Regions from separate parts of the Homo sapiens genome. Here regions 1 and 3 are each linked to region 2. The links come from fine-mapping of genetic effects on gene expression. A gene starts in region 2. Each other region holds a variant in brackets. All regions are shown on one strand. Distances are from middle to middle.

Region 1 (8,172 bases), 21 kb after region 2:
ACCTGGAGCCCAGACTCCATCTCCTGCCTCCTGTTTGGACCCTGAGGGTTCGGGGTTGGCTGCCTGCTCCTGGAACCCCCACCCAGTGTCAGAAGCTCCTGGTCCAGGCAGTAGCAGGCTGCCTGCTCCCGGCCCAGCGGAGGCCTGTACAGAGCGTGATGGGCCCTGTGTCTGTTGCAGGTGCACTGTGAAGAGTTCATCCCCGAGTTTGAGAAGCAATACCCAGAATTTCCCTGGACGGACGTCCAGGTAATTCCTGTCCTGCACACCATCGCAGGCCGGTGGGGCGGGTCCCGGGCTGGGGGCCTGCAGGAGCTGCTCCCTTCCCTCTCTGCTGGCATGGGCTGGGAGGGACCTTTGTCCCCTGCAGTTGGTCATTCTCCCCAGAGGCTGGCAAGACAGCGTGGGCTCCCCTCCCTTCCACCCTGGGCATTTGTGGGTGCTCCTGAGAGGGAGGGAGCTGGAGGGGCATGTGGGGCACCCCTGGGACAGCCAGAGGGTGGCGGCACTGCCTGACCCTAGATTCCCAGTCATATGGAGACGTTGGCTGGGCCTCCATGTCCAGCAGCGGCATTCTGGGTGCTGTGTTGAGCTCCTTGGGGCAGTGGGGAGCAACGGGGTCTGCGGCAGGAGATGGGCAGATTTGCAGAAGGTGGGCGTCAGGAGTAAGAGGGCAGGTGCTGGGCGGAGGTGGCCATGGTGAGGTCTAGAGACGTGAAGATGTGGGAGGGGGTGACTTGGGCCACGTGGGGCCCGGGACTTGGGCAGGGGCAGCAGACCCCCTCTTGAGAGGCTGTTCTGAGCAGGCCTCGTAACTCAGGCTCCCCGGTCCCCAGGCTGAGATCTTCCGGGCCTTCACGGAGCTGTTCCAGGTGGCCTGTGCCAAGCCACCACCCCTGGGCCTCTGCGACTACCCCTCATCCCGGGCCATGTATGCCGTCGACCTCATGCTGAAGTGGGACAACGGCCCAGATGGTAAGAGGGGCTCCCCATCTCCTGATCCAAACCAGCAGGCGCCCCCTCCGCCAGCCAGCCACAGCCTGGAGAAGGCAGGCAGCTGCCCCAGGCTGTCCTCTGGCTTGAATCAGCCAGGAATCTGGGTTGGGGAAAGCCCTGGCTTGGCCCACAGGAAGTGCCTGCGGTGCAGAGTCTGGAGGGGAAAGGCTGCGGGTTGGGCCTCTGAGTCGGGGGAGAGCTCACAGGACAGGAGACCCGTGTGAAAGGCACCCTGACCCCAACCCACACCACCCTGGCTGGCCTTCCCTGTGCCAGACCCCCACACAGTACACTGCTGCTGCATATCTACTTTTTTTTTTTTTTACTAAACTGAACATCCAAGCTTAAAGGGCCAGGCTGTCATCCCTAGGGCTGGAGGCAGCCCTGGCCTCTCCTAGAGAAGCAGATGTCAGGCCAGGCCTCCCCAGCAAAGTCAAGAGACCCAAGTTCTAGGCCCGGCCTTGTCCTGCTCATCCCCTGGGAATCAGGGCCCAGGTTCATGGCCTCCCAGCCTTTGCTGGATCCCCAGGCCACTGTCCCTGCAGAGTGGAGGCCAACGAGCCTTCACACTCTGCTGCGCTCTTTGCCATCAGGAAGGCGGGTGATGCAGCCGCAGATCCTGGAGGTGAACTTCAACCCCGACTGTGAGCGAGCCTGCAGGTACCACCCCACCTTCTTCAACGACGTCTTCAGCACCTTGTTTCTGGACCAGCCCGGTGGCTGCCACGTTACCTGCCTTGTCTAGGCACTCGCTGTCCCCAAAACCTGTGCTTGGGGCAGGATTCCAACCTCAGTTCTCTGAGCTGCTTCTGCAAAGGCCCCCATGTCCCTCCCCACACCGGCCCTGGGCATAGCCTCAGCCCCAGGCCTCTGTCCTGCCGAGCCATCCTCCCGGCGCCACACTCCGGGAGCACAGCATCCTCCTCTCACCTGTGGGTCAGAGCAGGACAGTGATGGTGTCCCCAGGGCTGAGCACCACCCCACGCCCTGCCCTCACCCCTCACCACCATCTGTGCACTGATGAGTCTCCAGTTTAGCCAAGGGCTTTGTTCCTGGCATGGAGAATTTGTTCCTGGCTGCTGTGTTTCCAGGGGGTGCTGGGGGAAGGGTTCCGTGGAGCGAGACAAGGTGTCCTCGGGAGCAGGGTTCCACCGGGAAGCGTTTGGGAGCCCTGTATCACACGGGGCAGGCGGGTTTCTCTTCCGGGGTCTCTGCTCTTATGCATCAGGACGACCCCGGGACGGCTGTGGGGCCCCACACTGCACCCACAGGGCTCTATGCGACAGGGGCCCAGGAACAGCCTGAGGCCACCACCCAGCAAGCCCGCCTTATCACCCATTCCAGCTCACCCAGAACCTTCACCAGCAAACCTCCTGCTGAGGTCCTGGCAGGAGGCCACCGTCTTGTTACCGTTTCCTTTTCGTTTGCTGAGGGTCACAGACCCCAACAGGGAAATCAGTATCTGTCTTCCCAGTGGTTGCCCTGCTCGCCGGGCACTCCACGGGGTCCCGCCCTTGTGTGAGATGGGCCAGGATCCTTCGGCAAGGGGCGCCTGGGGCTGGGGCTGATTGTGGGCGGTGGAGCGCCAGACAGAAAAGGATTCCAATGAGAACTTCAGGTTAAAGTCAGATGCCACCTACCAGGGTCTACAGTCAAAATGTTGGCTTTTTCTTATTTTTTAATGTATGGGAGAAAAATGTAAAATTCCAGTTCTTTTCTAATTGTGTTTCTGAAATTAGGAGTCAGCTGCCAGCGTTTTTGTGTGGCTGCAGTGTGCCTGGGCCCAGCTCACGGGCAGTGGGTGGACCTAACTGCCCAGGCAGGCGAGAGCTACTTCCAGAGCCTTCCAGTGCATGGGAGGGCAGGGCTAGGTGTAGCGGTGTCTCCTCTTTGAAATTAAGAACTATCTTTCTTGTAGCAAAGCTGCACCTGATGATGCTGCCTCTCCTCTCTGTGTTGTCTGGGCCCTTGTTTACAAGCACGCGTTACCCTTCCTGAGGGGAGCCATGCTCTAGCCCCTGGAGGGCCTGTTGCAGGGGCAGGGCGGGCCCGTCGCCTTTGGCAGCTCCTGGAGAGCTGTGGACATGCAGTCCCCCTCAGTTCGTGCTGCAATAAAGGCCATCTTCTCTTATTTCTGCCCTCCTTTCTCTTTGGACCCTGGAGCCACAGGCTCAGCCTGGCCTGTCGCCCCGGCTGTCACTGAAAAGCCCCGGATACCAAGAAGTCACCCACAAAAAGTGGGAGAAGAAATAAGATGGCCTTTATATCGCAGGCCTCCACCCCACAGTCTGATTTCCATGTGCTGGATCTGTTTCCAAGCCGGC[C/T]GGGAGCCTCGGTCCTCGAGTGGCCCCACAGCTCTAGTGGCCCTGGAGATAGCAGCCTCCCCACACTTGCCTCCTTGTCCTGGGGTGGGGACGGTGAGAAACCCTGGCTGCTGGGGCGTCTGCAGGGCTCCTCGGGCCACTGCTGAGCAGGTGCATGGACACCGTCAGTGGGTGGAAGCAGCGCCACATGGTGACCAAGGAGGTTAAGACTCAGAAGGCAGGCCAGGCATGGTGGCTCACGCCTATAATCCCAGCATTTTGGGAGGCCGAGGCAGGACAGAGAACAGGTCACACAAAGTCAAGAGATCGAGACAGTCAGACAGCATGATAAAACCCTGTCTCTACTAAAAATACAAAAAAAAACAAACATTAGCCGGGTATGGTGGTGCGCGCCTGTAGTCCCAGCTACTCAGGAGGCTGAGACAGGAGAAACGCTTGAACCCAGGAGGCGGGGGTTGCAGTGAGCCAAGATCACACCACTGCACTCCAGCCTGACGACAGAGTGAGACTCCGTCTCAAAAAAAAAAAAAAAAAAAAAGCGGAAGGCAGAGCGGCCCTGAGGCAGGCTGCCTGTGGACTGTGCTGCTTCTCTCCTTAGCCTCCCTTCCAGGGCAGGTCTCAGGACTGATGCTCACACGGACTCTGTCCAGAAGCTTAACAGCTGGTGCTCTCACTAGTTCCCAGCTCACTTAAAACCTGGTGCCCAGGAGATAGTCCTGCCCAGGGAGCAGCTGGGACAGCCCCCAGAATCAAGACCACATGGTCCAGGCTTTCCATGATTGTAGATGGCTATTCTCTGTCCCCACATGTCCTTGCACCTCTGCTCACTGCAAATGGACACCCCCAAGGAAGGCCAAGAGCCAGGGACTTCATGAGCCGGAAGACCAGCCGGCTCCAGGTGCTGAGGCAGTTGCCGGGAGATGTTTATCCCACTAAATACTTCTTCCTGGTACTCATTTGCACCCTCATCACTGTGTTAAGAAGCCATCCAAAGCCGGAATTGACCAGGCACAGTGGCTCACGCCTGTAATCCCAGCACTGTGGGAGGCTGAGGCGAGCGGATCACTTGAGGTCAGGAGTTGGAGACCAGGCTGCCCAATGTGTTGAAATCCCATCCTACTAAAAATACAAAAATTAGCCAGGCATGGTGGTACACACCTGTAATCCCAGCTACTCTGGAAGCTGAGGCAGGAGAATCACTTGAACCTGGGAGGCAGAGGTTGCAGTGAGCCAAGATGGCGTCACTGCACTCCAGCCTGGGCGATAGAGCAAGACTGTCTCAAAAAAAAATAATAAATAAACCCACTCAGAAAGCATCAAAACCTTAAGTTCCCAGTGGATGACAGCAGCTTAGAAAAGGAGAGAATGCTGTCTGTTACGAGCATTTCCTGGGGAAACGTCGCCAGGCTGTTAAAAGGAAGCCGGCAGACGAAATGCTAAATGCGTTCTCCTCTCGCCCATTTTTCCAAGGCGTTTTGTGGCAGTGCGTGTTTTGTGGCCAGCAGGAGCTATGTGGGACATTTGTTACAGATGAACAACCCCACGAGTTGCGGAGATGGCAGAAGTCTGGGTTGCACTTTCTCCAATCCCTAAGTGTCTGGCACGGACTCAGGTGTCCCTTGACACTTCAAAGGATACCCCTGTGCCCTGCGGGGACGGTGCATGCTCACCGGCATGCTGGAGCAGGAGACAGCCTGGCCTGTAAGTTTCTTGCTAGCAAGGACCTCTCTGCCATCCGCTGCTTGGACTGTCTGCACAGAGCTCTGGAGGAATTCAACTCTGGGCGTCTTGGAGAACTTCAGAAATAAGTTAATAAAAAGGATACACAGAGGCTCCCCAGCTGGCTCCTCTGCACCGGTGAGCATCGGGAAAGCCATGAGGGCTGAGGGCTCAGCTGAGTGCCCGTGGCCGCAGAGTTTTTGGATCCTGCAGAGCGTGATCTGTTGGGCATCAAACTCTGCCAGAGTCAAGGGAGCGGGAGGCTGAGGGTCAGGGTGGAGTAGCGCAGCCCCTGGGCGGGAGCCATCCCTTCTGTCAGAAGAATGCAGTCGACTGTCTACCCATTTCCCTGAGCTGTTCGTTCTTTCGTGTGTGTGTGTGTGTGTGTGTGTGTGTGTGTGTGTGTTGTGCGTGCACCAGAGTGGATGGTATAGACAAGAGTCTCCCTATGTTGCCCAGGCTGGTCTCAAACACCTGGCCTCAAGCAATCCTCCCGCCTCAGCCTCCCAAAGTGCTGGGATTACAGGTGTGAGCCACTGTGTCCAAGCTTTTGTGAACGTCAGGTTGTGTCTGAGCGTACAGGTCGGGAGAGGACACAGGAGCCGGGGGAGAAAAGAGGAAGCAGCAGCCGCGGGCTGTTGAGTGATGACGAGCTGTCTATGAACATTTTGCCAATTTGAATGAACTTAGCTGCCAAAAACAAAAAACAAAAAGCCCGGCAGGTCAGGCCTGGCCGAGGGGAGGGAGCCGCGGGCTGTGTTGCTGAGTGCTGCATGGGTGTGGTGACCGAGAGCAAGACGGAGGAGTGCTGCGTATGGGACTCGGCTCATTTACTCCAAACAGCTGCCTGGAGAGGCCATGGGTCACCCAGTTCGAAGCCGGGGTGAGGGAGTGAGTGGCTGTGACACCTCCAATCCTGGCCGCTCTGGGCCAGCAAGGAGGCCCTGTCTGCTGGAGTCGGGACCTAACCTTTCCTGCCTCTGACTCCCCCTCGAGCCAACTGGGTGTTTGCGGGGCTATCCCTGGTGCAGTGAGGCTGCCATAAGCCTGGGCCCCCGGGGGACAGGGCAGTCAGCACCCCCAACTCTGTCCTGGGTAAAAGCAGCTGAGGGCCACGCACTGGGCAGGACCAGGCGTCGAACAGTGGTTGTGGGCCCGGCCATTAAAGGGCCCGGGCTGAGCATCCCGGAAGCCATGGGAAGCGGACAGGACCCCCTCCCTCTGCTGAAGCCCACGGCCCCAGCTGGGTCTGCGCCAGTGTGGGCCCCAGGGTGGCACCCAGGGCTGCTCTGTTCATCTCCTGCAGGGCTTCGGGAGCGTCCCAGGAAGCGTGGGGCAGCCCCAGCTGGATCCAGCCCTGTCTGGAGAAGGCAGCCCAGGCAGATCCTGCAGAGACGAGCTCCAGTGCAGCCCCAGCTCCCCCTCTTCCCTGTGGCCAGGGGTCCCACCCAAGCAAAAAGGCCATGGTAAAGGAAGTCAAAAACTTTATTCAGCTTATAAAATTCCATGTTCCAAGAACATGCTCTAAGCATGCAGAAAGCACAGGACACTGCTCCCGGGTGGGGGCTCAGGTGGGGCCACCTCTGAAGCTCTGCTGACCCCTGGGCCAAGGCCCTGACAGACTAGCAGGCCCAGTGGTCATGAAAGCGTGACGGCCACCACATCACAAGCGTGATGGCACCTGCTGGTGCAGCTGCAGTCCCTGGTGGGCCGGGCACTCACTCTGGCAGCCGCCGTCCCCCACGCCAGCCATGGTTGTCCCGCCATACGCAGTAGTTGAGTGTGGTCGTGAAGGCCAGCCAGGCCAGGTAGGGGTAGAGCAGGCGGGCGGCCAGCGGGCTCACCTGGTACCAGGCCACGGTAGTGGCTGCCGCCGCCCCACTGACCAGCAGGAGATCCACCAAGGCCTGCAGAGATTGGGGGACGGAGGATGGGGAGGCCTGAGGCACCGCGTTCACCCAAGTGCCTGTCCCACTGCCCAACTCCCACTGGATTTGGGAGTCAGGAGCCTCACTCACCCCCACTCCACCCTTGAGTGACCTGGCCAAGCCCCTCCCCCATCGCAGCCTCAGTTTCCTCATCTGTAAAATGGGAACAGTCATGCCACCTGACCCATGCCTTGTGTGGGGTGCACATGACATGCCTGAAGTGAACTCGGTTTGTTCAAGGGTGCGGTGGTGGCTTAGGAGGTCTTGCACGTCCCTTCCCCTCTCTGAGCTTAGAGCCTCCACTGAGAGCGATGCTGACCTCCCAGCATTACTACAAGGCCCAAACAAAAACTTGCTATTTGTCAGGTGCAGTGGCTCACGCCTGTAATCCCAGCACTTTGGGAGGCTGAGACGGGTGGATCACCTGAGGTCAGGAGTTCAAGACCAACCTGACCAATATGGTAAAACCCCGTCTCTACTAAAAATAAAAAAATTAGCCAGGCGTGGTAGCACGTGCCTGTAGTCCCAGCTACTCAGGAGGCTGAGGCAGGAGAATTGCTTGAACCTGGGAGACGGAGGTTGCAGTGAGCTGAGATCACGCCACTGCACTCCAGCCTGGGCAACAGAGCGAGACTCCGTCTCAAAAAAAAAAAAATACAGAAAATTAGCTGGACATGGTGCTGCATGCCTGTAATCCCAGCTACTCGGGAGGCTGAGACAGGAGAATCACTTGAACCTGGGAGGTGGAGTCTGCAGTGAGCCGAGATCATGCCACTGCACTCCAGCCTGGGCAACAGAGTAAGACTCTGTCTCAAAAAAAAAAGGCTGCCGGGCACAGTGACGTGACCTGGAGTCCCAGCTACTCAAGAGGTAAAGGCGGGAGAATCAATCGTTTGAGCCCAGGAAGTCGAGTCTGCCCTGGGCAACACAGCGAGTCTTCATCTCTTAAAAAAGTTTAAAACTTTAAAAAAGAAGCAGTCAGCCGGGCGCGGTGGCTTACACCTGTAATCCCAGCACTTTGAGAGGCCAAGGCGGGTAGATCACCTGAGGTCAGGAGTTCAAGACCAGCCTGGCCAACATAGTGAAACCCCATCTCTACTAAAAAAATACAAATACAAATACAAAAATTAGCCAGGAGTGGTGGTGCACACCTGTAGTCCCAGCTACTCGGGAGGCTGAGGCAAGGGAATCACTTGAACCCAGGA
Region 2 (8,172 bases):
GCTATGATTGCGTCACTGGCCACTGCACTCTAGCCTGGGCAACAAAGTGAGACCCTTCCTCAAAAAGAAAAAAAAGAAGAAGAAATGTTACATATTGCTCTTTGAGAAAGTTCACTGGTACTTGTAAGGGTTTGGGGAGTTAGTAAGCTCAGCTTGGTGAGCCTTATTAGTCCTAGAGTTGCAGTCAGTTATCTCAGAAGTTATCAATAAATGGTTTTAGGTTACCACAAGCAGTTTCAGCAGTCGGGCTTACAGAGAATTACATTTTGGGAACAATGCCTTGCACCCCAAATGCTTTTTCCCTCTTGGCTTCTCAACTCTGTTTTAATTATGACAAGAATGACCCAATTTTTTTTTTTTTTTTTTTTTTTTGTGAGTTGGAGTCTCACTCTGTGGCCCAGGCTGGAGTGCAGTGGTACGATCTCGGCTCACTGAAACCTCTGCCACCAGGGATCAAGCAATTCTCCTGCCTCAGCCTTCCAAGTAGCTGGGGTTACAGGCACCGCACCAAGGCTAATTTTTGTAGTTTTAGCAGAGACGGGGGTTTCACCATCTTGGCCAGGCTGGTCTTGAACTCCTGACCTAGTGATCTACCCACCTCGGCCTCCCAAAGTGCTGAGATTACAGGGGTGAGCAACCACGCCTGGTGACCCAATTCTTATGATCAACTTTCACAAAGTCATTGTATTGGGTTTAGGCTCCATGTTGTATGAAAAACCCATTTTGTATGAGTACCCTTGGCAAAGCTCTCAGAACAAAAAGCTATCAGGGACCAAAGGTCAACCTGGGCTTGGATTTTCAGGATGGAAGGGCCTTTTTTATTTTTAGACGGAGTTTCCCCCAGGCTGGAGTGAGTTGATGCGATCTTGGCTCACTGCAACCTCCATACCCCCACCCCTGGGTTCAAGCAATTCTCCTGCCTCAGCCTCCTGAGTAGCTGGGATTGTAGGTGCCCACCACCATGCTCGGCTAAATTTTGTATTTTTAGTAGAGATGGGGTTTCACCATGTTGGTCAACCTGGTTTCGAACTCCTGATCTCAGGTGATCCACCCGCCTTGGCCTCCCAAAGTGCTAGGATTACAGGCATGAGCCACTGTGCCCGGCTATGGAAGGGACTTTTAAACTCTTTTTTTTTTCCCTGTTTCTCTCTCTCCTTTTTTTCAATTGTCTGGAGGGGGAGGGGGTTGGTGGCAGTAATGGGAGCAGAGCAGTAATTTTATGTTGATTAAATACACATTCTTCAGTGCCTCTTTAGAAGACAACATTTCAGCTGAGAAGAATGAGTCAGGATTTACAAAGTGAGCATGGGGAGAAAGGCTTTCTGGCAGAAAACAGAGCACAATGCTTTCCAGGAGCTGAAGACAACCAGAGATACAGGGACTCACAGTGTGAGGGGAAGAGTGTAATGAAAAGAGGCTGGAAAAGTTGGCAGTGCCAGCTCACACAGAGCCTTGGAGCTCAGGTGAAGAGTTGAACCACAAAGGGTTCCAAGTAGGGATCTGATACAACTGGGTTTACATTTGGGGAGGAGCATGTGAAAGAGGACTGCCCTGTCAGAGCCTCACATTCTCCTGGTCAAAGGGGCTGGGTCAGGAATGTTCACATAATCTGACCAGTACCTGACACAACTGAGACTCAGTCTGTCTTCCCCAGCGGGACCGATGGAAGGGTTGTGGAAGCGGGAGGTGCACTAGGTGTGTACCACTATACCTGGCTAATTAAAAATTTCTTTTTGTAGGGTCGAGGTCTTGCTTTGTTGCCCAGCCTGGTCTCAAACTCCTTATTTCAAGTGATCCTCCTGTCTTGGCCTCCCAAAGTGCTGGAATTACAGGTGTGAGCCAGCATGCCCCATCCTAGCATTGTGATGCTGTTTTACTATATTATTTATTTTGAGATGGAGTCTCGCTATGTTGACCAGGTTGGAGTGCAATGGTACAATCTCAGCCTTGGCTTCCACAACAAAAACCGAGGAATCAGGGTTTTCCTCTGGCCATGGTGAAACCCTGTCTCTACTGAATACAAAAAATTAGCCAGGCGTGGTGGCACACACCTGTAGCCCCAGCTACTTGGGAGGCTGAGGCAGGAGAATCACTTGAACCCGGGAGGCAGAGGTTGCAGTGAACCGAGACTGCACCATTGCACTCCAGCCTGGGCAACAAGAGCAAAACTCCATCCCAAAATAAATAAATAAATAAAATGTTTTTCTCTGCAGCCCTCACCAACTTGAGTTTGGAAATTTTTGCCTTTGCAGACCCACCTGCTTCCTACAATGGAATTGAACAAGTCCGTGAATTGGTGCATTTTATTCAAACTCAGTTCAAAAATGTTATCAAAATAGCATCTGAAGCTCCAAAAAATTTTCAGCCTTTGTTTTTTAGCAAATTACAATTCTTACAAAATTGCAAAAAGGAAGACATTGAAATGTATCCCTATGGAGCAATAAAACTCAATGAGAGTTCAAAAGAGAATGTCTTTTGAAATTCTATAACTGAACTGTTTTCTTTTAAAGAGGGAGTCTGGCTATGTTGCCGAGGCTGGACTTGAATTCTTGGGCTCAAGCTATCCTCCCGCCTCAGCCTCCCGAGTAACTGGGACTACAGACGCGGCCACCACGCCCAGCTCAACTGCACTTCGAAACATCCCGACATGTAGGAGTAAATTCCTCTGACGGGTACACTTGGTCTTAATTGGATCAACTGACATTCCGAATCCAAATATAAGTAATTGAGAAGGGCCACGATTTTGCAGCATCCAAATCTGGTGAAACGCTCACAAGAATCGAGAGCTCCCAAGGCAGGGGGCCTGCGAGCTCTGTGTGCCCGGTGCAGGCACAGAAGCGCCGCCTCACCGGGTTCGGGCCCCAGGACACCTTCCGGGCCGTCGGTGGGGCCTTTTCCGGTCCTGACAGCGCCCTATACGTAGGCACCCCGCCCTCCCGGCATTCCCCGGGGTCGCCGCGCGCTGAGCGAGAAAAGCTCAGCCACCATCAGGTGCGCGTGCGCACACGGCGGCAGCCAAACCACAGGCGCGGTCGCAGACGCGCGCCCCCTCCTGGCAAGCTCGCGCGCTCTCGCACGCACCCCGCCGATGCGCAGGGCCTGCCCGGGGGCCGCGGCAAACCGGGCTGGAGGCGGACTGGGGGCGGGGCGGGACGGGGTGAGGGGGCGAGAAGAGGGCGGGGCAGGGGAGGGGTCGGGGGGGCCGGGAGGAGGACGGGGCGGTGGGGAGGGGGGCAGGGGGCGGGGGCAGGGGGCGCGGCAGGGGCGGGGGGCTGGGGGGAGGACGGGGCGGTGGGCGGGGGGCTGGGAGGAGGACGGGGCGGGGGTGCTGGGAGGCGGGCGGGGCGGGGGGCGGAGGCGGGGGGGGCTGGGAGGAGGGCGGGGCGGGGGGGGGCTGGGAGGAGGGCGGGGCGGGGGGGGGCTGGGAGGAGGGCGGGGCGGGGGGGGGGGCGCTGGGAGGAGGGCGGGGCGGGGCAGGGGGCGGAGGCGGGAGGGCAGGGCCGACGGACGGCGGGCGGCGGCGGCGGTGGCGGCGCTGGAGTCGGCGCGGGTGCTGGCGCCATGGAGGCCGAGCGGGGTCCCGAGCGCCGGCCTGCGGAGCGTAGCAGCCCGGGCCAGACGCCGGAGGAGGGCGCGCAGGCCTTGGCCGAGTTCGCGGCGCTGCACGGCCCGGCGCTGCGCGCTTCGGGGGTCCCCGAACGTTACTGGGGCCGCCTCCTGCACAAGCTGGAGCACGAGGTGCGGGGAAGGGCGGCGGGCACGTGCGGCGGCCGGGGTGGGAGCGCGGCGGGAGCCCGCGGCGCGGGACAGGGAAGAGCGCTCCCGGGCGGCGGGAGCCGCGGTGAGCCACCCAGAGCGCGTCCTGGGCAGCTCTGGAGCGGCGTGGAGTTGGGGGCCGAAGAGTGACAGCAGGAGACCGGGGTACCTGCGGCCCTGATCTGCCCGGGCCCGAGACCGGCTGAGGGCTGCGTTGGGAACTTTAGGTCCTCCACACACCCGAGCCTGACACAGCCCTGCGAGGAGTGAAACTCATCACCCCCACTTCACAGATGAGAACACTGCGGCTCCGAGAGTCCCTTCAGAGGGATTCTTTCAGCCGCTGCCTCACAGGGACAACGGGAACCCCGTGAATTTGTGTAGCTGTAACTGTTGGGTTCACAGAATTCGGTGTTTTTTCATTTGATTTGAGCCTCGGGGTCCCCTCATCTTGCAGGTTAAAGAAAACAGGCTGTGAGAGGTGGAGGAGAAATCTAAAGAAAAATGGAAAAGATTGAGAAGCCTCTAGGTTCTCTCCCTTTTTGTGAGGACGGCCCATCCGGCTCACCTGCCTCCTCCACTCCAAAGCGTTCCCCACTGTCCTGGCTGGGGATGAGCCCTGGATTTTTATTGCGTGCCCAGAGGCTGAGGCCACAGCACCTTCCCGGGCTGGCGGGGGGGGGGGTGTTTTCTTTAGCTGGGACCCGACATCTCCTCCAGGTGCTGTCTCCCGGACGGAGATGAGCCTAGTGGCGCAGGTGATGAAGTGGAAACCCCAGAGCCAAGAACAGGGACCCGGGCCGGGAACTAGGAGTCCCTGAGCCTGGCTGCTGGCCAGACTCTACGGTCTCTGAGCCAGTTTTTCTCTGTGTAATCCTGATTGGACTAGGAACCTTCCTGCTGGAAACGTGCAGTGAGTGGCACCTCCTTATGCTACAGTGTAACAGAGAGTTTCCTCTGCCCCTCACTTCTGCCATATGCTTTCCGAGGACCACTCTGGTCCCAGGCCTGTGCTGGGTGGAAGGGACCTTGGTTTGTTCATGAGGACAAAAAGGTTCCCATGGGCTGCGTGGAAGGAGCACAGTGGGAATGACCAGCTCCTGCCCAGCCAGCCTCCACGGCAGCACGCCCTCCCTCGGGCGGTCACTCGCCCGTCTGAGACCTGTTCTCCATCTGGGAAGGGGATGGTGAGACACCATCTGGCTCCCACAGTATTGGAAGGATGGGAGGTGGCATGAGAAATATGCCTGGCACACAGAGGGTGGTCGCCACCGTGCCACGTCCCCTGCCCAGGCCGCCTTGCCTGCTGTTGCCCTACTAAGGGGCAGCCAGTGTTTTTCCGTGACCCTTCCCCAGCCGTTAAGGACAGAGCTGAATCACTGCTTTACCATTCACAAACTTGCAGCTCTTCCTGAGTGAAGCCTCCTGCTGCTACTGGCCCAGGTGTGGAGGAGGCCGCCAGCAGCAGCAGCACCTGCCAGCGCTGTGGGCCCTTACACCCCTGGCCATCAGCCCTCCTGCCTCACCTTAGGCCGGCTGCCCTGGAAAGGATGGGGAAACTTGAAGATACATACATATATATATATATATATATATATATATATATATATATATATATATATATATAATTTTTTTCTTTTTTTAATTGAGACGGAGTCTTGCTCTGTCACACAGGCTGGAGTGCAGTGGCATGATCTCGGCTCACTGCAAGCTCTGCCTCCCGGGTTCAAATGATTCTCCTGCCTCAGCCTCCCGAGTAGCTGGGATTACAGACGTGCGCCACCACACCCAGCTAATTTTTGTATTTTTAGTAGAGATGGGGCTTCACCATGTTGGTCAGGCTGATCTCGAATTCCTGACCTCGTGATCCGCCCGCTTTGGCCTCCCGAAGTGTTGGGATTACAGACGTGAGCCGCCACGGCCGGCCGAAGAGATGTTTTTAAAATGTCTACTCTTCTGTCTGCACAAGCTTCCCAGTTGCAAAACCACTCCCCTTATCTCCTGGGGAGCTCTTCCAGTCCTGCCATGAAGGGGTTGTGGTGAAGGAGAAACCCAGCACCCCATTTCACAGCTGGGTTGAATCCAGGCCAGGCTTGAGACAGGCTCTCTGACCCTCAGCCTCACGCTGTCCCCTAGGGATTTGGAGTACTGGGGCGGAAGCCCGAGGTCTGGATTCCAGCCCTCTGAGCCTCCCCCCAGCCCTAAACTGGAGAAGGCAGTAGCCTCCCCAGACCCACCTTGAGGGCTAAAGGAGAACTGGATGGCTCTTGTCTCAGGTGCCTTGTCTCTCATGTGACCCCTGGTTTGCTCCACCCTGGGCTATCTGCCTCCAGGCCTTCGCTCTTACTCTTCCCTCTGCGTGGAGTTCCTTTCCATCCTCACCCCGTAGCCTCATGTTTAAATCTTCCCCTTCTTCAAAGCTGGCCTCTGGTTATGGTTCCTCATCCATAAAGTCTTCCCAGGCCCTCCAGGCCCCAGAGCAATTTACCTGATACTCTTAGGTGGCCTAGACCTTACTCAGCCTGAGCTTCCTGAGCGAGACCTTGAGTGATTCATCCTCACGCCACCAAAGGGCAAGTCCTGCCCAGTGCACAAAAGCTGCCTGCACCTGAGTACTTAGCTAGTTTCCAACTGCCGTTTTTAATCGAGTAGTGGGAAATACGTTTTAGGGAGGAACTGGCCTTTGTTGAGCCTCCACTGTGCGCCAGGACTTTATGCACGCTGTTTGATTTCATTCCATCAGTGTCCTGAAAGGTGGATGACACCCCCTCTCACAAGTGAAGAAACAGTCTCAGAAGTGTAACAATGGCGCCACGTGTTTATAGAGCATTTGCTGTGGCCAGGCTCCACTCTGAGTTCTGGGTATGAATCACCTAATCCTCCCAGTAGCCCTCAGAGGGAGGTTCTGTTATTCCCATTGTGTGGATGAGGAAACACGCATGGGATAGTTAAGTAACTTGTTCAAGGTCACTTGTCTAGGAAGTGGTGAAACCAAGATTTGAACCCACACAGCCTGGCTCCAGAATCTGCCCAGAAGCCCCCCTTGCCGGCTTGTGGCAGACAGGGCGTGAGTGTGGCTGTGCCAGGGACCCCTCTGCTCCACACACACCAGAAGAGGTCACTTGCCTGCTTGACTAGCCGCACAAGGCAGGACCAAGGCCCTTATCTCCCCATCCCACCTTGACCTGGGGCCTCGCTTCCTGTTGGCCTGGATTGGGTGGGGCTGGGCTGGAGGAGGCTTCTCTGTGAGTTGACTCAGCTGTCCTAGTGTTGAGGGGTTCTTCTGGTGAGGGGGGCATTGGGGTGTGCCCCCAGCCACCAAGATCCTGACTCTTCCATTGACCTCCAGTGTAATTGGAGCCACCCTCTCTGCCTTTGGGGCCTCTCTTTCTGTGTAATGTGAGTGGGGTGGACTACAGATACCTCCAGCAAGTCCTCAAGGTCCCATCTCCATGCACAGCATCCTGTGGGACGAGGCTCTGGATGACAGCTCAGGTGACGGTGGGGTACATTAGGTCCCTGTTCCGAGCCTGAAATCTCCAGGAGCTTCAGTCTCCCCGCCCGTAAGACTGTGTGGTTGCATTAAACAGGTCCCACACCTCTGAAGGAGACAAGTTTGTCCTTGAGGCCTGGGTGTGGCACCTCGGGTGGCTTTCTGGAGTGGTGAAGGCATTGGGGTGGGGTCTCCTGCCCACACCCCTGCTGACGGGAACTCTGGCCCCCAGGTTTTCGACGCTGGGGAAGTGTTTGGGATCATGCAAGTGGAGGAGGTAGAAGAGGAGGAGGACGAGGCAGCCCGGGAGGTGCGGAAGCAGCAGCCCAACCCGGGGAACGAGCTGTGCTACAAGGTCATCGTGACCAGGGAGAGCGGGCTCCAGGCAGCCCACCCCAACAGGTAGGAGCCTGGCCAGAGACACCACCACAACCTTCACTTGGTGAAAGGTGGGAGATGCAGTAATGCAGATTCTCCTGGGCCCTGCACCGCCGCTGGACATCTTCCTTAGGACAGCTTTGTGGCAAGCACGTGTGGCCAGCGGTGTGTCCATCAGGGCTTCAGAGTACTGTCCGTGGCAACACAGCGTTCCTGGGGTGACCGGATGGACCGCGGCCTGAGAGCCTCTCCCAGCGGTCTCATTGTCACAGTGGTCCTGCTACAGGGGATTAGAAGTTCCAGTTTTGCTCGAGGTCACCCTCCAGGTTAAGGGTGCAGGTCAGCCTTACTCCTCCCCAGTCACAGCCCCTCTCTGGTCCTGCTAAATTGGAATCTGGGGTGGGCCCTGGAACACCTGAGGACCTGAGACCCAGAGCAGGCCTGGCCTTGCCAAGGACCACGGTGTAGTTAGGGCAGAGCTGAGACTGTACCCCAGGCTTCCTGCCCCCAGGGACCAAGAGTGGCTATCCCTAGGTCAGGCCTGC
Region 3 (8,172 bases), 36 kb before region 2:
GGGATGTGGCAGTGCCTCCTGGAAAGCCCATGGTCCCTGCCCCCTCTGCAGGCATGCTCGCAGCACTGGGTGCCCCTAGGCTGAGTTCTGGACGGGCCCCTGCGTTCCCTGGTTCCCTGTACATGGGACCCTGTCTGGGTGCTGGGGCTGTGGGCCTGCCCTCCTGGAACCTCCACGCCGGGTCCTTGCCCCGCCACACTCTGACATCCCCAGGGCAGCCTAAGTGAGCCTTTTAAATGTAAGTTAGAACATCCCTCTGGGCTCAGAACCCCGCCCCCACCCCCACCCTCCGCCCCTTCCAACCCCGGTAACTCCTCCTTTGACTCTGAATCAAAGCCACAGCGCTTGGAATGGCCCGAAGGCTGCCGCCAGCTGACAGGATTGCCCTCTGCTGTCTCCCTCGCTTCACGCCAGCCTCACTGACTTCGCAGGGCCTCCACCAGCCCTCAGCCCGAGGCTGTGCGCTTCTCTTGGCCTGGAGGGCCCCCCCACACCAGCACTCCTCACTCCTCCCTTGCTGTGAGGGTCTGTGAGTGAGGCCTGCCCCATCACCCACCCAGAGCCGCAGCCTTGGCCACTTCCGCACCCATCTGGGCCCCCTGTGCTTCCAGCTTGCTTTCCCTCCCATCACACTCCCAGCCACCAGAAGTAATGTGCACTTTACAGGTTCGTGTTGGTGTATGTCTGTCTGTCTGTCCATCTCTCTCTCCTCACTAGAATGTAAGCTTTACACAGTTAAACAGGTCTTCTTGGCCTGTCCCATTTACTGCTAGAGCCCCAGCACCTGGAACAGACCCTGACAATCACAGACACAGAGTAAATATTTGTCAGTGAACACATTAACGAATACAAACCATCATTTAATATCTGAAATCCAAAGGCTGAGTTTATCACGTACTTGTGGAAGGACTTGCTGTGCTTTTCAGGCAAAGTCTCACTGAACAAAGTCAACTGCTGCTCTTCTGCTGAGTTTTGGGAAAGAGCTTGTTTGGGGTTGTACGGGTGGCGGAGGCAGCATGAGGGGATCTCCGTCTTACAAGCATAGGAAGGATATGGTACCTTCAGATTCTTTGCAGGAAAGCGTTGTTCATTGAGGGTGTTAGGGGGTCATTGCTCTGTGGTGAGCAGGTTTACGCAAACCTGCCTCCAAAGGGCAAGAAACTGAGTGGCAGAAGAAAGAGGCTGACACATTTAGTTTCTCAGAAAGAAACATTTGGCCGGGCACGGTGACTCACGCCTGTAATCCCAGCACTTTGAGAGGCTGAGGTGGGCAGATCACCAGATCACCTAATTTTTGTATTTTTAATAGAGACGAGGTTTCACCATGTTGGTCAGGCTGGTCTCGACCTCCTGACCTTGTGATCCACCCACCTCAGCCTCCCAAAGTGCCGGGATTGCAGGCGTGAGCCACCGAGCCCGGCCGCTTCTACTGCTCTTTACCATCTGTTGCTTTTGAACTTTTTCTTCCATCCAAGATCCTAACACTTAGGTGAACTCATTGTGATACAGATCTGATCATCCGGGACAATAACTATCCAGCGATATCCTGAATTCTTAAGCAAATGTTTGTCTGTCTCCTGGAGTTTAGGAAAATTTCCTTCAGCACTCAGCATAGCTCTAGACGTGGCTTTACATCCAGCATTAGAGATCTGATTTCTGGCTTTCCTGGGATAAACCCTAAGGGAGGAGTTGCTTGTGTAGGAGATGGAGGGGCAGGAGTGGGGGGGTGATGCGATAAGTGGCTGGTGAAGATGGAGCTGGGCAGAGAGAGTGGCAAGTGGATTTCGGAAGGTTTGAGTGGGAGGAAACTGAGGCCAAGGTATACCAGTGGCAGAAGCTATTAAATGATGAAATTTTGTCTCCTAACATTTTAGAGCTCCTCTTAAATATATTAATGTATTAGTTTTGATGTGTCAGAAGTTCCCACAATGACCAACGTTATTCTAAGCTGGTGGTGGTAGTTGTCGCTGTTTAGGTTTTGTGGTGAGTAGGGGGCAGTTTGCCATTTACCAGGACAAGCACAAGTTAGGATAATAGTCTAAATTCATAAGGCTGCAGGAGTTCAGCCAGGGAAGTTGCAGCCTTGGCATAACCAGCCCATGATCATCACTTTCATCAGTCAAAAGTGTGTGCTTAGCATGACGTTCCGGTTCCCCCAACCAGACACAGGCTGGAAAGGGCCGTGCAGTCAGTGACCTGACAGCTGTGACCCCAGAATATGGAGAAAACAAAGGGGCCTCCTTTCACGTGTTGGCAGAACAGGAGCGCCCTGAGGAAGATTTTAGAAGGGACCCAAGGAAAGCCCTGCCTAGTTGCCTACAGGAATTGGCCCCTAGTATCATAGACCTCTGACCATTGATCCTGGGGGCCAGCTTGGATTGAGTTGGAAGCATGCAGGGCCTGTGTCGCCATCTGGTCCCCAAGGAGCACCCTGTTATCTATCCATCAAACACAAGACAAGTCAGAGCACAACAAAACTCATGGGATAAACCTTTATCTAATAGTCAAGCAAAAGCAAAGTGCCCAGCAGCAGAACACACAGGTAAATGTGTGTCTCCGAACACAAGGTCTTGCTCCCCAGCCAGAGGCCCACTTGCTAACAAAGCAGTCAGCACGAGAGAGCAGCAAAGCAAGTGAGAGCTCAGAGTGTTGTCACACGGTGCCCTCGCAGAAAGCAATCAGCAGGACAGACAAAATGTGGGCCCCGGGGGTTGACCAAGGACACCTGTGGCCCACGGCACCCAAAGGACACTGGGAAGCAAGGGTTTCTAAAACAATCTTGGAGGAACCTCCAGAATTACCAAAGGATGAGATCAGCCACCGCTCAGTATCTGAAACCAGAAAGCTGAGCTGTCGCTTAAGTAAGGGGGAGCTGTGTTGGTCAGGCAGGCTCAGGGAGCAAAGCAAACTGCTGATCTTCCCTGGGGATTTGGGGCAAAGCTTATTCCAGGCAGGTTGGGATTAGGTTGATGGGAGTCTAGAAGCATGGCCTGTGTGGGTTACAGAAGGGAGGTGACTTGACTGAACCTGGAAGCCTGGTTACACTGGAGTAACTCCACATTGATGACTGACCAGAGTGCGAGGCTGTCACTCATGAGGTGGCTTTCAGAGGCGTGCCACATAAGCCGGTTGTCACCGACCAATTAGCCATCTGTAAAATCAGTTCTGGTATTTACCATGGCTGTAGAACCGTCCGTCTTTTCCTAGGAGTCCGGGGGACTTTTTCATCCTCTAAAGATAAGTAAGCAAGTGAGAAATTCTGGAGGGCTGTTTCTCCAGACACCTGATGGCTGTAGCAGAGGCTGCCCCAAAGAGGTGCTTCCGAGCGATCCCCCCCACGGCCCCTCCCAGGAAGCCAGTGTTCATTTAGCGCCGTTCCTTTCCCCAGTGGGAATGGACGCCTGCCCTGGAGAGCTCAGCCCTGCCCTCAGGGAGTTTCTGATCTGGGGATGGGGACATGAACCTTCTCACAGCCAGGATTAGAGCCTGAAGGGGAGGAGGGACTAAGCCAGCTGTCTGGGCCCAGCATCCCCACACGCCCAAGGGACCTGCGATCTCCAGGCGCCTTCCCACCAAGCCAGCCCAGCCATGGAAGAAGGGAGTTGGGGGAGTCCCCATTAGGCCATACCCAGGACCCTCCTGGCTCCAGGAAGCCTCCGCCCTGGCCTCTCTCAGCCCTCTCTCGTATCTCCCTTCATAGAGACAGGCAAGTGTCTTTCTCGCGCCAAGACCTCCCCCCGGGCCCAGCTGTCCTGCAGCAAGGCAGGCGGTGTGGAGAGCTGCTTCCTTTCCTGCCCGGCTCACACACTCTTCGTGCCAGGTAACCCGGGCCGTCCCTGAGATGGGATGCTGTGGCAGGGGGGTCTTCCTCCCTGGGGTCCCACCATTGCTCCCAGCTGTCCTCCAGGAAAGAGTCTGACCTAGGAATGAGGGTCTCTGATAACTGAGTGACCCTAAGGCAGCTGTCTGGTTTTCTGTGGGCCTCGCTGTCCTTCTCAGTAAACCCAGTGGGCTCCTTCCTCCTGGCCACTTCCCTGTGGTTGTGTAGCAGAAACTGGCAGAAGAATCTGTCCTGATCTTCGTCTCACTCCACAATCCCTCTGAGGCCCCAAGAATCTGAGGGCCGTGGGAGGGAGGAGCACCAGGCCCACCTCACCCACCGGCTTCTCTGCAGACTCGGAAAATAGCTACGTCCTGAGCTGCGGAGTTCCAGGGCCGCAGGGCAAG[G/T]CGCTGCAGAAACGCAACGGCACCAGCTCTGGCCTCGGGCCCAGCTGCTCAGGTAACCCCCCCGGCCTGTCCATGCTGCATGCCACTGGGTGACTTGACTGCATCCAGCAACATGCTGGCGGGGGAGGAAAGGGCACCGCCCAGGGAAGACCTTCCTGCTCTCGGCCCTGCTCCGTGTGGCCTGGGGTGCTGGCGATGAGCCAGGCCCAGGACCTAGAAGCCAGCAGGCTGCAGGCCGAGTTCTAGCCCAGGGTCAGGGGACCGTGGGAGGGCCCTTCCGGCTCTGAGGTCACAGCCAGAGTGGTTCAGGGACTCTAACGTGCTGTGAGTGCACAGATCTCAGACTGTATGGGTGGAGCAAGCCACATCTGCTGTGGCTATTAGGTTCTCCCGAGTCAGAGCTGGCCTGGCCGTGCAGAGCATGCCAAGAAGCGCCGAGGTGCAGCACAGTCCCAGCCCTTTGGGAGTGACCCGCTGGGCTTGGTCGGCATGGCACAGCCAGCCTTAGCTCCTGCCAGCTAAGGAGCTGAGGGTTGTGTCTTCAGCAGCTTTTCTTATTCAGGATGCTGGATTTGATAGATAGGTGCATTTCTGTATGTTTCTTTATTATTATTATTATTATTTTTAAAACGGAGTCTCGCTCTGTCACCCAGGCTGGAGTGCAGTGGCGTGATCTCGGCTCACTGCAACCTCCGCCTCCCAGGTTCAAGCAATTCTCCTGCCTCAGCCTCCTGAGTAGCTGGGATTACAGGTGCCCATCACCACACCTGGCTAATTTTTGTATTTTTAGTAGAGACATGGTTTCACCATGTTGGTCAGGCTAGTCTGGAACTCCTGACCTCAAGTGATCCGCCTGCCTCGGCCTCCCAGAGTGCTAGGATTACAGGCGTGAGCCACCGCACCCTGCCCATTTCTATATATTTAATGCATATGTGATTTGATTCTAAGCACCTGTGGTGGTAGGATTCTTTAGTCCAAGGGCTATGATTTGCTCTTGCAAGGAACCGGCAGTCCTGGATCTATAGTATTTCAAAGCCCCTTCCCTTCCTTGCTGTCCTATCTCTCTTCTGTTCTACGCTCTTTCCTAAAGCACAATCATGGCTTGCTGATGGGGAGGAGGTAGGAGGATCCCTGTCCTCCTTCTCAGAAGACCTCTGGCGGGTGGCCCCTGGGCTTGAGCTTGACCCCACCATCCATGTGTTCACCTGTTTTAGGCCTTGCAGGGAGAGAAATGGGGCAGGAGAGGGTCCCCCACCCCAGGAGAGCTGTCGGGGCACAGGGACTCAGATCAAGCCCCACCCCCAGCTCCAGATGGATTTGTCCCCTGGCAGCCCCCGTCCCCCACCACCTCCTTGCCTGCAGGAGAGGCCACCACCTGGGGGAATTTTGGCTTTCCCCAGATGCCCCCACCACCCCCATCAAACAGAAGGCCCGCTTCAAGATCCGAGATGCCAAGTGCCACCTCCGGCCCCACAGCCAGGCACGAGCAAAGGAGACCGCCAGGCAGCCGCTGCTGGGTGAGTGGGACGCCCTGCTCCTAACCCACACCAACGGGGCTGTAGGAGAGTCCTCATGCCTGGGAGCTGGGGCCCCAGGGTCCAGCGAGTCTGGTTTCCAAGGGTGGAGGTCTCTCTCACCTGGCAGCTGTTTATTGAATGAGAGTTTCCAAGGACATTGCAGGCTGGGGAAACAGCGGAGGGCAAGCTTGGTACGAGGGGCCCCGGAGGAAGGCACCAGCTCTGTCCCCGTGAAGATTCCTTCTCAAACCTAACAGAGCTCTCAGCACGCAGCAGGCTCTGCCCAGAGCCGAGTCTGCACTGGCCAAACCCTCAGCAGGCCCAGAGCTGGGGGCACAGCCTCATTCATGAATATGTATGAGATGCCTCCACCTGCAGCAGCGTGATGGACCGGGCGTGAGACCTGGCTCAGCCACCAGCCCCTCCTGAGACCCCGAGCCAGCCCTGACCTTCTCTAGCCTGAGTTTTTCCGTCTGCACCACGGACCAGGAAGTCCTTGCCAATGGCACTCTGTATGCAGGGCTTGGTAGGACCTTGCTCCCTGCCCCATGCCGCCTTTGCCACAGTGGTCCTTTCCTCGTCCAGACCACTGCCATGTGACTTTCGTGACCCTCAAGTGTGACTCCTCCAAGAAGAGGCGCCGTGGCCGCAAGTCCCCATCCAAGGAGGTGTCCCACATCACAGCAGAGTTTGAGATCGAGACAAAGATGGAAGAGGCCTCAGGTAGGTGAGGGGTTCTCCTGGGGGCTTCTGCAGGCCTGAAGGAGGACGACAGGCTGGTGGCGCTGCCGGGGGCCTGCCAGGCATGAAGCTAGGCTCCCACCAGAGCACAGCTGTGGCTGGGATGGGAGCCCAGCTTCTGGAGACAGAGGCAGGCCCACAAGCAAAGGGAGCTGGCAGGGGTCAACGCTTGCAGCCCAGGATAGAAGAGGCAGCCCAGGGCAATGAGACAGAAGAGCCGAGGTGACCTCAAAAGTCACATGACCCTTATCTGCCCCTCCACACTCCTGCTGGGACCCGGGAGGACAAATAGGTGCAGCCCCCCTAGAATGGTTGAGCCAAGGATTGTCTTTCCTGGTTCCTGAAGGAGGTTCTAATGCTGGCTCGGGTGTCACAGCAGCACTTTGCTCTTGGCTATATGTGAGTGTCAACCTGTGAGTCGTTGATGTTGAAGAGATGGGATCTGTCAGCAGATAAGTGTGGTATGGGCCTGGCTGTGGGCTTGGGCGCTGTGGAAAGAAAAGTCCCCACCCAGGTAACACTCTCAGCCAGAGAGGCAGACGCACGTGCAAACCACCCATTGCCAGGTGGGACTCTCGGTGGTGGGGGCACAAGAACAAACAATGCATAGAACTGAGGTCTGCCCCCCACGGGAGGGCTTAGGAAATGTCTTAGTCTGGCTGGGCACACTGGCTCACGCCTGTAATCCCAGCAGTCTGGGAGGGCCAAAGTGGGTGGATCACTTGAGTTCAGGAGTTCAAGACCAGCCTGGCCAACATGGTGAAACCCTGTCTCTACTAAAAATACAAAAATTAGCCAGGTGTGGTGGCAGGCACCTGTAATCCCAGCTACTCAGGAGGCTGAGGCAGGAGAATCGCTTGAACCTGGGAGGCAGAGATTGCAGTGAGCTGAGATCGCGCCACTGTGCTCCAGCCTGGCGACGAGTGAGACTCTATCTCAAAAAAAAAAAAAGGAAATGTTTTAGTCTATTTGCGTTGCTAAAAGGAACACCTGAGGCTGCATAATTTATCAGGAAAAGAGCTTATTGGCTCTCGGCTCTGCAGGCTGTCCGAGAACACGGCAGCAGCATCTGCCTGGCGAGGCCTTAGGCTGCTTCTGCTCACGGAGGAAGGTGAAGAGCAGCTGGCATCACATAGCAAGAGTAAGGGAGCAAGAGAGAGGGGAGGGGGTGCCTATGTCTTCACCAGTCACATCTCGTGGCGACTAGTAGAGCCAGCAAGAACTGACTACCACACCAGGCCATTCATGAGGGACCTACCCCATGACCCAGACACCTCCCACCAGGCCCCACCCCCAGCATTAGGGATCAGATTTCAACATGAGGTTTGGAAGAGACAAATATTGAAACCATATCAGGAAGCTTTCCCAGAAGAGGTGCCATTTGAATGAGAGCTTAGAATCAAAGCTCACTGGGTGGAAAAGGTGGCAAGGAATGGCATTCAGGCAGAGGGAATAGAATAGGCAAAGGCACAGAGGTCAGAGAGAGGAGGAGGTGTCCAGGAAGCAGTAAGTAGGGCCAGGTGGCTAGACATTGGAATCCACAGGGAGTGTCAGAGTGGAGGGGATGAGGCTGGCAAGGCCATACGGGGCTGGACCTTGAAGGGCCTTGGATTCAAGGCCAGAGAGCTGGACACTATCCTGGGGACAGTGGCAGTCCCCAAGAGTCTTTGAGTGACAGAAAGGCGTT

What was found.
Region 1: its variant is fine-mapped to the expression of TTLL12 in monocytes (TOPMed, PIP 0.94).
Region 3: its variant is fine-mapped to the expression of TTLL12 in thyroid (GTEx, PIP 0.98).

Annotation. Positions count from the first base shown.
Region 1 is chr22:43,161,577-43,169,748 of GRCh38, reverse strand. It overlaps TSPO (translocator protein), which reads right to left. Exons shown (of 4, transcript NM_000714.6): 4 at 6,507-6,946. The coding sequence ends at 6,758. It overlaps TTLL12 (tubulin tyrosine ligase like 12), which reads left to right. Exons shown (of 14, transcript NM_015140.4): 12 at 181-249; 13 at 837-975; 14 at 1,590-3,127. The coding sequence ends at 1,741. Among named protein-coding and RNA genes, the nearest start is that of TSPO, 14 kb to the right of the region's middle. RefSeq lists enhancers at 1-684, 685-1,541, 5,697-6,199, 6,200-6,703. The variant C/T (reference allele first, on the strand shown) is at 3,321.
Region 2 is chr22:43,182,459-43,190,630 of GRCh38, reverse strand. TTLL12 (tubulin tyrosine ligase like 12) reads left to right here and starts at 3,497. Exons shown (of 14, transcript NM_015140.4): 1 at 3,497-3,738; 2 at 7,482-7,651. The coding sequence starts at 3,562. RefSeq lists silencers at 3,084-3,203, 3,452-3,611, 3,652-3,871 and enhancers at 4,252-4,311, 4,322-4,401, 4,342-4,846.
Region 3 is chr22:43,218,745-43,226,916 of GRCh38, reverse strand. It overlaps SCUBE1 (signal peptide, CUB domain and EGF like domain containing 1), which reads left to right. Exons shown (of 22, transcript NM_173050.5): 11 at 3,701-3,820; 12 at 4,175-4,279; 13 at 5,628-5,744; 14 at 6,330-6,467. Among named protein-coding and RNA genes, the nearest start is that of SCUBE1-AS2, 10 kb to the right of the region's middle. RefSeq lists enhancers at 1-484, 485-1,051, 6,169-6,670 and a silencer at 1,672-1,837. The variant G/T (reference allele first, on the strand shown) is at 4,228.